Linked DNA regions of Homo sapiens: region 2 is linked to region 1. The links come from fine-mapping of genetic effects on gene expression. A gene starts in region 1. The other region holds a variant in brackets. All regions are shown on one strand. Distances are between the middles of the regions.

Region 1 (5,380 bases):
GCTTCCACATACTCACTGTTTTCTACTTGGTTAAATTTCCACAATTAAGATTTTAAAAAATTTTTAAATAATCTCACAATGTGTAGGAACTGCTGTTTAAAGACATCTATTTTAATGAGCTATAAAGTCTTGGTTCTCTGCTGCAAGCGGTGGCTCACGTCTGTAATCCTAGCACTTTGGGAGACCAAGGCGGGCAGATCACCTGAGGTCAGGAGTTCAAGACCAGCCTGGCCAACACGGCGAAACCCTGTCTCTACTAAAAACACAAAAATTAGCTGGGCATGGTGGTGGGCACCTATAATCCCAGCTACTCGGGAGGCTGAGGCAGGAGAATCGCTTGAACCCGGGAGGCAGAAGGTGCAGTGAGCCGAGATCACATCACTGCACTGCAGCCTGGACGACAAGAGCGAACTTCCATCTCAAAATAAATAAAATAAATAAATAAATAAAGTCTTGATTCCCAAATGCTAGTTTATCCATCCGTTGACAAAAAGAGTCGAACTCTGTAAAATATTTTGAAGAGATTTATTCTGAGACAAATATGAGTGATCATGGCCCATGACACAGTCCTCAGCAGGTCCTGAGAATTTGTGCCCAAGGTGGTCAGGGCGCAACTTGATTTTATACATTTTAGGGAGGCATGAGACATCAATCAAACACATTTAAGAAATACATTGGTTTGGTCCAGAAAGACCTGGGACTGATAGAAAGGGAATGTTCAGTTTAAGATAAAGATTGTGGAGACCAAAGTTCTCTGTAAGTCTTACAGTGGCTGCCCTTAGAGACAATGGATGACAAATGTTTCCTATTCAGATCTTAGTTAATCTCTTTAGGATTGGGAGGGTCTGGAAGAAAAAGATCTAGCTATGTTAATACAGATTCTTTACAGATGCATATCCCACCCCTCCAAGGACAGCTTTGCAGGGCCATTTCAAGATATGGCAAAGAAACATGTTTTGGGGTAAAATATTTTGATTTTCTTCCTTGTCTTGTAATGTTATGCCAGAGTCAGGTTGGAAAGTAAGTCACCATATATAGGGTTAAGTAAAACCCATCTAATAAGAATTTATGATTTGTAGGGCATGACTCCCCAAATCCTGTAGATAGGAATCTTGGGCAAGATAAAAAAATCAGAGTTTAGTCCTCCGACCTCTGCCAATTTCTCAAGATATCTTTTGCTAGTCTAAAAGCTAATAACAAAAAGAACAACAGGATGAGCATTTTATACAAGTAAATGTATTCCATTTAAAAGATTTTTCTTTATTGTGAAATTCTGCCATTCTACCTTTTTAATGCTAAAAAGTTCTGTTTCGTGAAATGATGGTGATAGTAGACGGCATTTATTTGCTTGACAACTTTGTATGATCTCAGATTTTCTGTGTGTTTTACTTTTACTGACCCTTCAAATCTAAGTGTGTGTAAACCCTTTTAAAGTGCGTTACTACATCATTTAGTATGTGTTTCGTAGAAAGCAACCTGGGAGTTAACTGCCAGGAGCACGCAAGTTTCAGAAAGCAAGACATACTCATCTCTATTCAACAATTAATCAGTTCTGATTGGGTTTCAAGTAAGGCTTAGTACCAACGCTTAGGGAGGGGCGTGCAAAAACGAGAAAGGTAGTGTTTGACCTTACCGGTTTAAGGTTTATCCTGTGCATTATACAGTTAAGAAACAACGCAGGAGAGTGCCAGGGAACCGAGAGGGGCTTGACAGTTGCTGCAGGAGAGTCTTGACTTGGAACCAGACGAACGTGGAAAGTTAGAGGAGGGGAAAACCCCTACTAGGATAAGGCAGACAGGAATCAAGGCTTGGAGCGCATCTGGGGCCCCGGCCGCCCTGCCCAGGTGGAGGAAGAGCCGGCTCGAGGTGCAGCAAGGGGGCTGGGAAGGAAGGGCTGGCTAAAGCGCCACGTGGATGTGAGTGCCAAAGAGACTAGGAGAGCGTGGAAGTGAGTCCCGAAGAGACTGAGTTCAGGACGTGAAGAGAAAGAGGCCGAGAAAAACGACCCACCAGCGATCCTTCTTGAGGTCGACACCGAGCAGGGGTGGAGTCGGATACGCCCCGCGGACACCATGCACCCAATCAGCGACGAGCTGTCGCGGATCGCGGGACACGCCCCCTGATCCAAAGGCCCGAGAAGCTCTTGCACAGGACAGCCTCTGGAACCCCGCGCCATTAGCGCCTGCGCCGTCTCTAGGCCCCGCCCCCTCACCCCTCCGGTCCTGGAGCTCCCACAGCTAACATGGCGGCGCCCTGTGTGTCCTACGGCGGAGCAGTTTCGTACCGGCTTCTTCTCTGGGGTAGGGGTAGCCTCGCCCGGAAGCAAGGCCTCTGGAAAACCGCGGCCCCTGAGTTGCAAACAAATGTCAGATCCCAGGTAAGGCCTGGGAAGACTGGAAGCGGCTTACCTCTGCCGCGCGAGGATGTGGAGCCAGCGCGGACACCTTCCCCCAGCGTCTCGCGTGCCTTCAGGCAGGGACTCTAGGATCTTAGGTATTTAGTGGAGGTCTGAGGTTGGGGGGGAGGAGGTGGGTATTGGCGTGCAGTAGCCGCTCTAGAGGTTGTTACTTGTTTTTTTGCGGGGTGCAGCGAGGGGAACTTACCTGAAGGTAGAAGTGGAGCGACCTCCTCCTTCATTTGGCTGCTGAGCTAAGTAAGGGTCGGTGCCTAGGTCTGTGTTGGGTCCAGTCCTACCCTGCCCTGCTGTCTAGGGAGGAGGAGGGCCGCGCCAGAGAAGAATGATGGGAATTGGATTCCTGCAGGTGCCTGGAAGACAATGGAGAAAGTCACGTTGTGTAGAGGACAGTGACTTTTTGAAAGTGCCTTCAATATGCGCAATTTCTGGCTTCTTAATTTTCCCGAATCCCCCTCTATGGAAAGATGCAGGCCAGAACTTGTACGTTTCGTTTAATCCAGGGAGAAGTGGGGAGTCAACAGCTGGATGGCTGATGATGCCAGTTTACTGACATGCGATCTCAGAGCAGGAAAAAGATTTGAGAGGGAAGAAACGAGTTTAGTATGGGATTATGTTTTTAGGCATCTGGGATTTCCAGTAGGTCTACGGATAGTCAAGTGTATAGCTCAGGAGGAGAACTGATTTCGAAATGCCCTGTTACCTTGTAAATGGTAACTGAGGCCTTGTAAACAAATTAAATTACCTAGGGAGAGTGTACTGAGGAGTAGGCAGAGGGACAGGGCCCTGAAGGACAAATAAGAAATAAGAGGCCTCAAGAGATTGAGAATGAGGGACCAAAGAAGCAGGAGAGAAACCAGCCAGTGTGGTGTCATGGAAAACAGGTGAATGTTTCAAGGAGGGAGAGTGATAACAAGTACCAATTATTGCAGGAAAGTCAAATACCATACTTTAAAAACTATATTTAAAAAAAAAAACATCTTTTTGTATGTTCTTTCCTTTATATTTTAATCTAGATCAACCAGTCCATTCTATCTATTCATGTGGACATTTGTTTTTTTTTTTTTTCTTACTGGAAAATGTGCTAGAAATTTTTATTTTTTCATGCATCTCTTTGAGTATATCTTTGCTACATACGCATGATTATGAGAGGGACTATATCATACAGAGTATTTTTATTGTTGACATTTAATGTATGTATTGGGGGATGGCTAACTTTCTGTCCCTCCTGGTATCTATTCTTCTATGTTTTTTCCATGTTCTTATAATCATGCATAAACATACATGCACAGGTGTACTTTACAAAAAATGGTACCATATTTGATTGCATTTTACTTTCTGCTTTTCTCTTGTACATATGCAGTATATTGTAAAGTAGAAATCCTTCAGGGTCCCCTATTATGTTTTTAAAAGCATTTTTAACTGCTGCATACTATTCCATGATAAGAATATATCAAAGTTAATGTAACAATTGATGGACATTTGCTTTGTTTCTACTTTCTTTGCACTAATAAAGTTTCAGTAAACATCTGGTCTAGTTCTTAAGTACTGGTTTAGTAAAATGGATGAAGAATGATTTCTCCTGTTACTTTAATTTTCATCTCCTTGACCATTCTTGAAACAACCTCTTTCCCCCATATGGCAAATGTTTACTGAGCACTTTACCTGAGCCAGGCACTGTGAAGTAAACAATTTAAAGTCAAACAATTACAAGATAGTATCCACCCTTAGCACTCTTAAGGGATGGTCCTGAAATGGCTGAATCCCCAGATTCCTGAATACTACTACAGCATATATTTTACCACATTAAGTACAGCTCAGATATAACTGAAACACTTAGCTGACCCCCCTTTAGATTCTTATGATTGCATACATATACCTAAAGACATTGATAAAGCTTTTTTTTTTATCGTGGTGCAGAGCTTATCTGTCTTAAACATTAACATTTTTTCACTTCTGCCTCCAACATTAATAGATAGATTTCTCTTGGTAGCCCATGTTTTATAAAATAATAAAAATTTTAATCACTTAATGAGTGACAAAACACTATACCTGGTCTTTTGTTTGTTCCACTTTTAATTTCCTTAATTACAAAATCTCTTCAGAGGTTACAGAAAACTTGAAGGGTGTGGGAGAATAGAATAATAATAAAGTGCATTTCATGCAGAGTATTTTTGCATTTTGTTTATATATGTAAATGTATACTAGGTGGTGATATAAACAGTAAATATTACAATGGGTCACAGTTTAACAAGTTTGAGAAACACTGTTACAATAAGGAAAAAGAAGCGAGTTTTGTTAAGCTATTCCTAGGTTCTCAGTTGAGACCTTCACTAGCAGACTACCTCTTGCATAGCAATCTTGTGGTATGCATGTTTTGTATTAATGCCTCAATACAATTGCAAATGTCTGAGTGTCCCAAATTTGGGGCAGAAGAGGCAGTCTTATGAATGGCCAAACTTTTCAGATTGTATATCCATGAATATCAGGGATCTATGGTGTACTGTGATATTTACAGAGGTAAATACAGAAGAGCACAGAAGTAATATGCCTGAGTCAGACTAGAGTTGTTGACCAGGTAGAGGATTGTCATGGGCAGCTTCCCAGAGGAGGCAAAGGAAAATAGCGTCTTTAGCAGCAAATAGGAGTTATATGAAAACAGAAAGCTATTCTATTCAAGGAAGATATAATAGGTGCATAAGGGTATAGAGATGTACTGAGTAATAGTGGGCTTTGTCAGCAACAATTGGTTATAGCATAGGGTTTTGGTGAGAGAATGGTGCAGAGACAGGTCTGGAAAGTTTGGCAGGAATCAGTATGATCTGTTTTGCTATGCTAAGGTAGCTGAATTTTTTACCTCTCACAAATGAAAATAGTGTTAGCATTATTATGAGCAGTTGACAGTTTCCTTCCATGCTGTACTACAAAGGTTACCCATGAATTCATAAATCCTCTATCAATATAGCT
Region 2 (5,380 bases), 530 kb after region 1:
CGATCCTGGACAACATGGTGAAACCTTGTCTCTACTAAAAATCCAAAAATTAGCTGGTCGTGGTGGTGGGCACCTGTAGTCCCAGCTAGTCAGAAGGCTGAGGCAGGAGAATCGCTTGAACCCAGGAGGCGGAGATTGCAGTGAGCCAAGATCGCACCATTGCACTTCAGCCTGGGTGACAGAGCGAGACTCCATCTCAAAAAAAAAAAAAAAACAGCATAAGCATGATTCATTTAACTAAACATTCCACACAGTATCCATCCAAACTCAGAATGTGTGTTGTGTTTAAACATTTTAAGTGTTTAAACATTTAGTTATAAGTCAGCTGCGTTTGGGGCTTCTTCCTTTCTCATTGCCCCCTGTGTCTGTAGTTTCTCAGTAAGAAGTGAGACCCTGTGCATTCAATACCTGTAGACAAGAACCTGCCAATTCTGATGCCAGAGACTCAGGCAAAACCATTAGGGAGCGTCTGGAATGTTTTTAAAGCACTGCGTCCCCTCCCAGGGAGAGTTAAATGCTATCATCGGGTCAGTGCTGGACACCGGAGAGCACACAGCTATGCTCTCTCGTTGAGGCACTCTCATCCATATGCATTCTCTCACCTTAGAATAAATGACACCCCTGCAGAATAGGTCTTCGCCAGACTGTTTACAGAGCAGCGGACACGGGAAGCCCATGAATACGGAGGCAGCATCGCAGTGAAAGACGGTGGGGTGCGGTGTGCAAGGAGAGCCTTTGAGGCAGTCAGGAAAACACCAGGGTGTGAGGGGTGTCGTTACGGTTTGCAGATGACAAAGGTGGCAAGGGAATCTAAAAACCTCCAAGCAAGGGCGAAACAACCATTTGCAGAGAAGTCTTTGAGCTCTAAATGCCTCGCTGCCACCTCATACTCTCACGGAATTGATTTCCGCCCCTTGGAGAAACTATTTGCTGTGACCTACTTTTTCACATGAAAGACCTCACTAAAGTGTTCTTTTCTCTTCACTGAAGGTTTGAAAAAAAAAATTCTTTTTCTAACTCTTACACATCCATGCTATGGGTGAGGACGCCTTAGCTAAGAATGCCCTACCCAGCGCTGTCCCGTAGGACTTTCTGTGACGATGGAAATGTTCACTATCTGTGCTGTCCGGTGTGACAGCCATGGCCACATGTGGCCACCAGGCACTTGAGACACGGCTGCTAGCATGATGGAGGAACTGAATTTGAAATTTTATTTAATTTTAATTAAACTTAAATGTAGCCATATATACTAGGGTCTACAGACCAGGCCTTCGCATTCCCCTATCAAAAGAGTTCCTGGTCATGTTGTTAAAGTGAAAAAAGAAAGGCAAATTGTAGTGTTATATATTTAGTATAAATATATACACCCACCCCAAACAAAACAATATATTACATTTGTGCATAAAAATGCTTTTAAATGCACAGAAAAATGGCTGAAATTATACCCAACAGACCAATATAAAAAAGGAGAACAATTTACAAGTGTTTTCTTGTAAGATATATCTTGGGTTTTATTTTTTTTTTCTTGTGGTCCAGTTATCGTGACAAATCCACCTGGATCTAATATCTAAGACCACAGAAGCTTGAGAACAGGCAGACCAGCTGTAAGACTTTTTTTTCTTTTCTTTTTCTTTTTTCTTTCTTTCTTTCTTTTTTTTTTTTTTTTTTTTTTTGAGTTGGAGTCTCACTCTGTTGCCCAGGCTGGATTGTAGTGGTGCGATCTGAGCTTACTGCAACCTCTGCCTCCCAGGTTCAAGCAATCCTCCTGCCTCAGTCTCCTGAGTAGCTGCAATTATAGGCACACACCACCACCCCTGGCCAATTTTTGTAATTTTGGTAGAGATAGAGTTTCACCATGTTGGTCAGGCTGGTCTTGAACTCCTGGCCTCAGGTGATCCAACTGCTTAGGCCTCTCAAAGTGCTGGGATTACAGGAATGAACCACCATGCTTTGTCATAAGACATTCTTTTTAAAGAACCCAGAGATCCTCCACAGCAGGTTGTGGGACAAGCCAAAATGCACACATGCATCCATGTGCACCAAGTCGCGTGGAATATGCTGTTCTCAACCTCAACTGTGCATCAGAATTGCCTTTTCAAAATATCCAGAGGCTTTGCATCCCACCCCAAAGATTCTATTTCAATTTATACAGAATGGTCCCAGGGCAATGGTATTTTTGAAAGGCTGCCGGGGTGATTCTATTGTATAGCCAGGGCTGAGAATGCCTGAGCTGGAAGCAGCACATAGAGGAATACCCAGCAACAGGGAGCCGCAGAGCTGGGAACGGCCGAGTAGGAAGATGCCTCAGCCCGTCAGCCACTGTGAGTGAGGAGCAGGATGCAGAAGGACCTACTTGTCTTGGCCTCATGGAGAGAAACATGGCATCTGAACCATGGAGAGCCCCAGGGTTTCATCCTAGTCTCTGGGTACCCTCGCTTCTTAGGTAATCTCTCATCTCCTGTGGCTTTAAATTATGAATGCCATCTCCATGCAGTAATTGAAAATCCTCAGCCAGACTGCGATTTCCAACTTCCTACATGCCATCCCTACCTGGATGTCTAGCCAGCCTCAGCCATCACACAGCCACACTTGCATGACTCCTCCATCCCGAGATCCCCTCTCTCAGACAATAGCCCCGCCGTTCTGTAAC[T/C]GCCCCCTCCGGAAGGTGTGCAGAGCACACTGAGCCCTCTCTTTCCCTCACACCTCACATCGATTTTATCCTCAGGTCCTGCTGGCTCTAATGTTGAAATATATTGTGACCAACCCCTTCTTACCAACTCCATCCCAGCATGCCGGCCCACACTGCCAACATCCTCTGAACATTGTACCAACCCCCAAATGCATCTCCAGTGCTCCTTCTCTCTTCCTCCTTGCAGCAGAGGCCACAAACAGCAGCCGGAAGAAACTTGTTAACTCAGCCCTGCGGCTCCATAGGTGAGCATGCTCACCCTCCAGGGGCTTCCCATCCCCTCAGAGCAACACCTGGTGACACGCTGCGGTGCACAGGCTCCGACACCACCCGGTGTCGCTCCCTTCCAGATCCACCGCCTTCTACTCCATGCCTTTCCCACTGAGTCCCATCACAGGGTCTCCCTGTTGTTCTTGAATATTCTCTCCCCCAGAGCCTCTGCACCAGATTGCACACCCCTCCATCACCAAATTCACCAAGATCTCTGCTCAAATCCCACCTCTTGGAGTGGGGTTTGGGGGGCTTTCCTGGCCCTTCAATCTCTATCAAGAATACTCTCCCTCCCCTACCAGCTTTCCTCTGCGGCCTCCTACCTGGCCTTATTTTTCTACCCATCACTTATGGCTACCTAAAATTACTGCTTGTTTTTGTTTCTCTGCCTCCTCCCCTGTCCTCCCCTGGAATCTAAGTCCCTGCAGGACAGAAGGTGCCTTGCAGCTGCACTGCTGGCTCCTGGAACAGGGTTGGCATGACCGCGGCCAGGCAGGTGCTCCATGTGTGCTGACTGAGTCTTCATTAAAAGCTGCACAACAAACACAATGAAGTGTTTGTTAATTTAACTTTTTAAAATTATGGTAAAATAGATGTAATATGCAATTTCTATTTTTGACATTTTCAAGAATACAGTTCGGTGGCATTGAGTACATTCACTTTGCTGTGCATCTATCACCACCATCCACCTACAGGACATTTTTGTCATCCCAAGCTCTGCACCCATTAAATGCTAACTCCCCTTCTTCCTCCTCCCAGCCCGACACCCACCCCCCACCATTCTACTTTCTGTCTCTGTGAATCTGACTACTCTAGGGATGTTAGGGACGTCATACAAGTAGAATCATGCAGTATTTTTCCTTTTGTGATGGCTTATTTCACTCAGCGTAATGTCCTCAAGATTAATCCATATTGTAGCATGTGTCAGGGCTTCCCTCCTCCTCAAGGCTGAATAATATTCCACTGCATGTCTAGACCACATTCTGTTCTCCCATTCAACTGTCAATGGACATTCGAATTGTTCTCATTCAACTTGCAGCCACAGTGCTTGCAAAATATGAAGTACGAACAAAAGGATACAGGGCGATCCAGTGCGATCCAGTGTCACCAAGAGCCCCAGTTTTCCAGGAAGCCAGCAAAGCAGGACATTCCAAGGGTCCCTGTGGAGGCCTTGGGGCAGCAGGGTCAGAACTGAGAGGCCTGGATGTGTGGCAGGCACGGAATGACCGATTTCATCAGTAGCATTACACTGAGTAATCACCAACCACCAACTCCTTCAATTACTACCACAACGCGGCTGAGAAGAGGAAGATCTGAAGAGGAAGAGAAACGTGTGGTCTTCTTCTGCCCTGGTTTGAGGCTGAGGTGTCCCTGGTAGCCCTGAGGGGCCTCCTGGCTGTCCTTGGCAGGTGTGGCTGTCCTCACTGGCCACTGGCTTTCTCCTTACACCTACCCAATGCCCCCCATGAGGCTGACTCCCCCTTCTCACCTTTCCCTCTCCCCACTCACCTGCCAGCCCTTCCCATTAGGACCCCAGAGCCTATATGAAGGAGCAAACGGGCTCACTGTTTTATTTCTTTAAAACTTAAGACCCCATGAAACAAAGCAAGGTCTGGTCATATTGGGTTGTGTCACAGTTTGAAAAAGGCAAGGTCATGTCTGCAAGAATGACTCTGCTGCTAGGAGGGCAAGAAGGCTGGGATGGCCAGGCTAGAGATGTGTGGTGGGAATTTGGGGAAGAGAGGTTGGTTAAGGAAGGGAGAACCAATGGTGAAAGGACTGGAAAGAAGACACACAGGGAAAGGTGGTGTTCTCTACCGAGGGGAGGCCTGTCTTGGGTAGGGCTTAGGAGTGAAGGAAGGGGGATGTCTCATTCAGCCTCCATTCTGAATACCCTCTAAGTTATCTCAATAGGACACGTGGCTCCTCAAAGTGAGGTCTATGGGTAGGGCTGGTCTCTGACTGTCTGTTACCAGCCCTCAATGAGAAAAGCACAGAAATGAGAGTCAAGTGAGTAGAAACTTGTGCCTTTGGCGTGGCTGCAGCAGCCACTAGCTGCAATCAGTGGCCTTGGCTTGTGGGTGGGTCTGAGACCAGGGCAGGTGCTGTTCAGCATGTGCTGAGATGCAGGCAGTATGAGTCACGTGCTGTCAGGGACTGTTGGACCTTCAGGGGTCTGGGAGAGGTGGAGGACACTGGTTTTCACTACAGCCGGTTTGAGGAGGTGTGCCCTGAGCCATGCTCCATGACCCCGCACACTGGCATCTCCTCCAGAGCCTGTTCCCAACCTGGGCACCAGGTGATGTCATTGGCCTGCATTTCGGGGCATATGTGCACAAAAGAGACCTCTGTCCACCCTAGACTCACATTCTACCCAATGGGGGGAGCCTGGGACCAAGGCGATCTGAGGAAACAGCAAAG

The links. PIP is the estimated chance that this variant, and not a neighbour inherited with it, causes the effect.
Region 2: its variant is the best candidate, but not a certain one, in a credible set for the expression of MRPS9 in ovary (GTEx, PIP 0.84).

Annotation. Positions count from the first base shown.
Region 1 is chr2:105,035,851-105,041,230 of GRCh38, forward strand. MRPS9 (mitochondrial ribosomal protein S9) reads left to right here and starts at 2,219. Exons shown (of 11, transcript NM_182640.3): 1 at 2,219-2,377. The coding sequence starts at 2,243. MRPS9-AS2 (MRPS9 antisense RNA 2) reads right to left here and starts at 2,646. Exons shown (of 3, transcript NR_110603.1): 1 at 2,604-2,646. RefSeq lists enhancers at 1,626-1,835, 1,856-1,905, 1,956-2,005, 2,176-2,505, 2,259-3,201.
Region 2 is chr2:105,567,525-105,572,904 of GRCh38, forward strand. No RefSeq gene overlaps it. Among named protein-coding and RNA genes, the nearest start is that of LINC02946, 40 kb to the right of the region's middle. The variant T/C (reference allele first, on the strand shown) is at 2,651.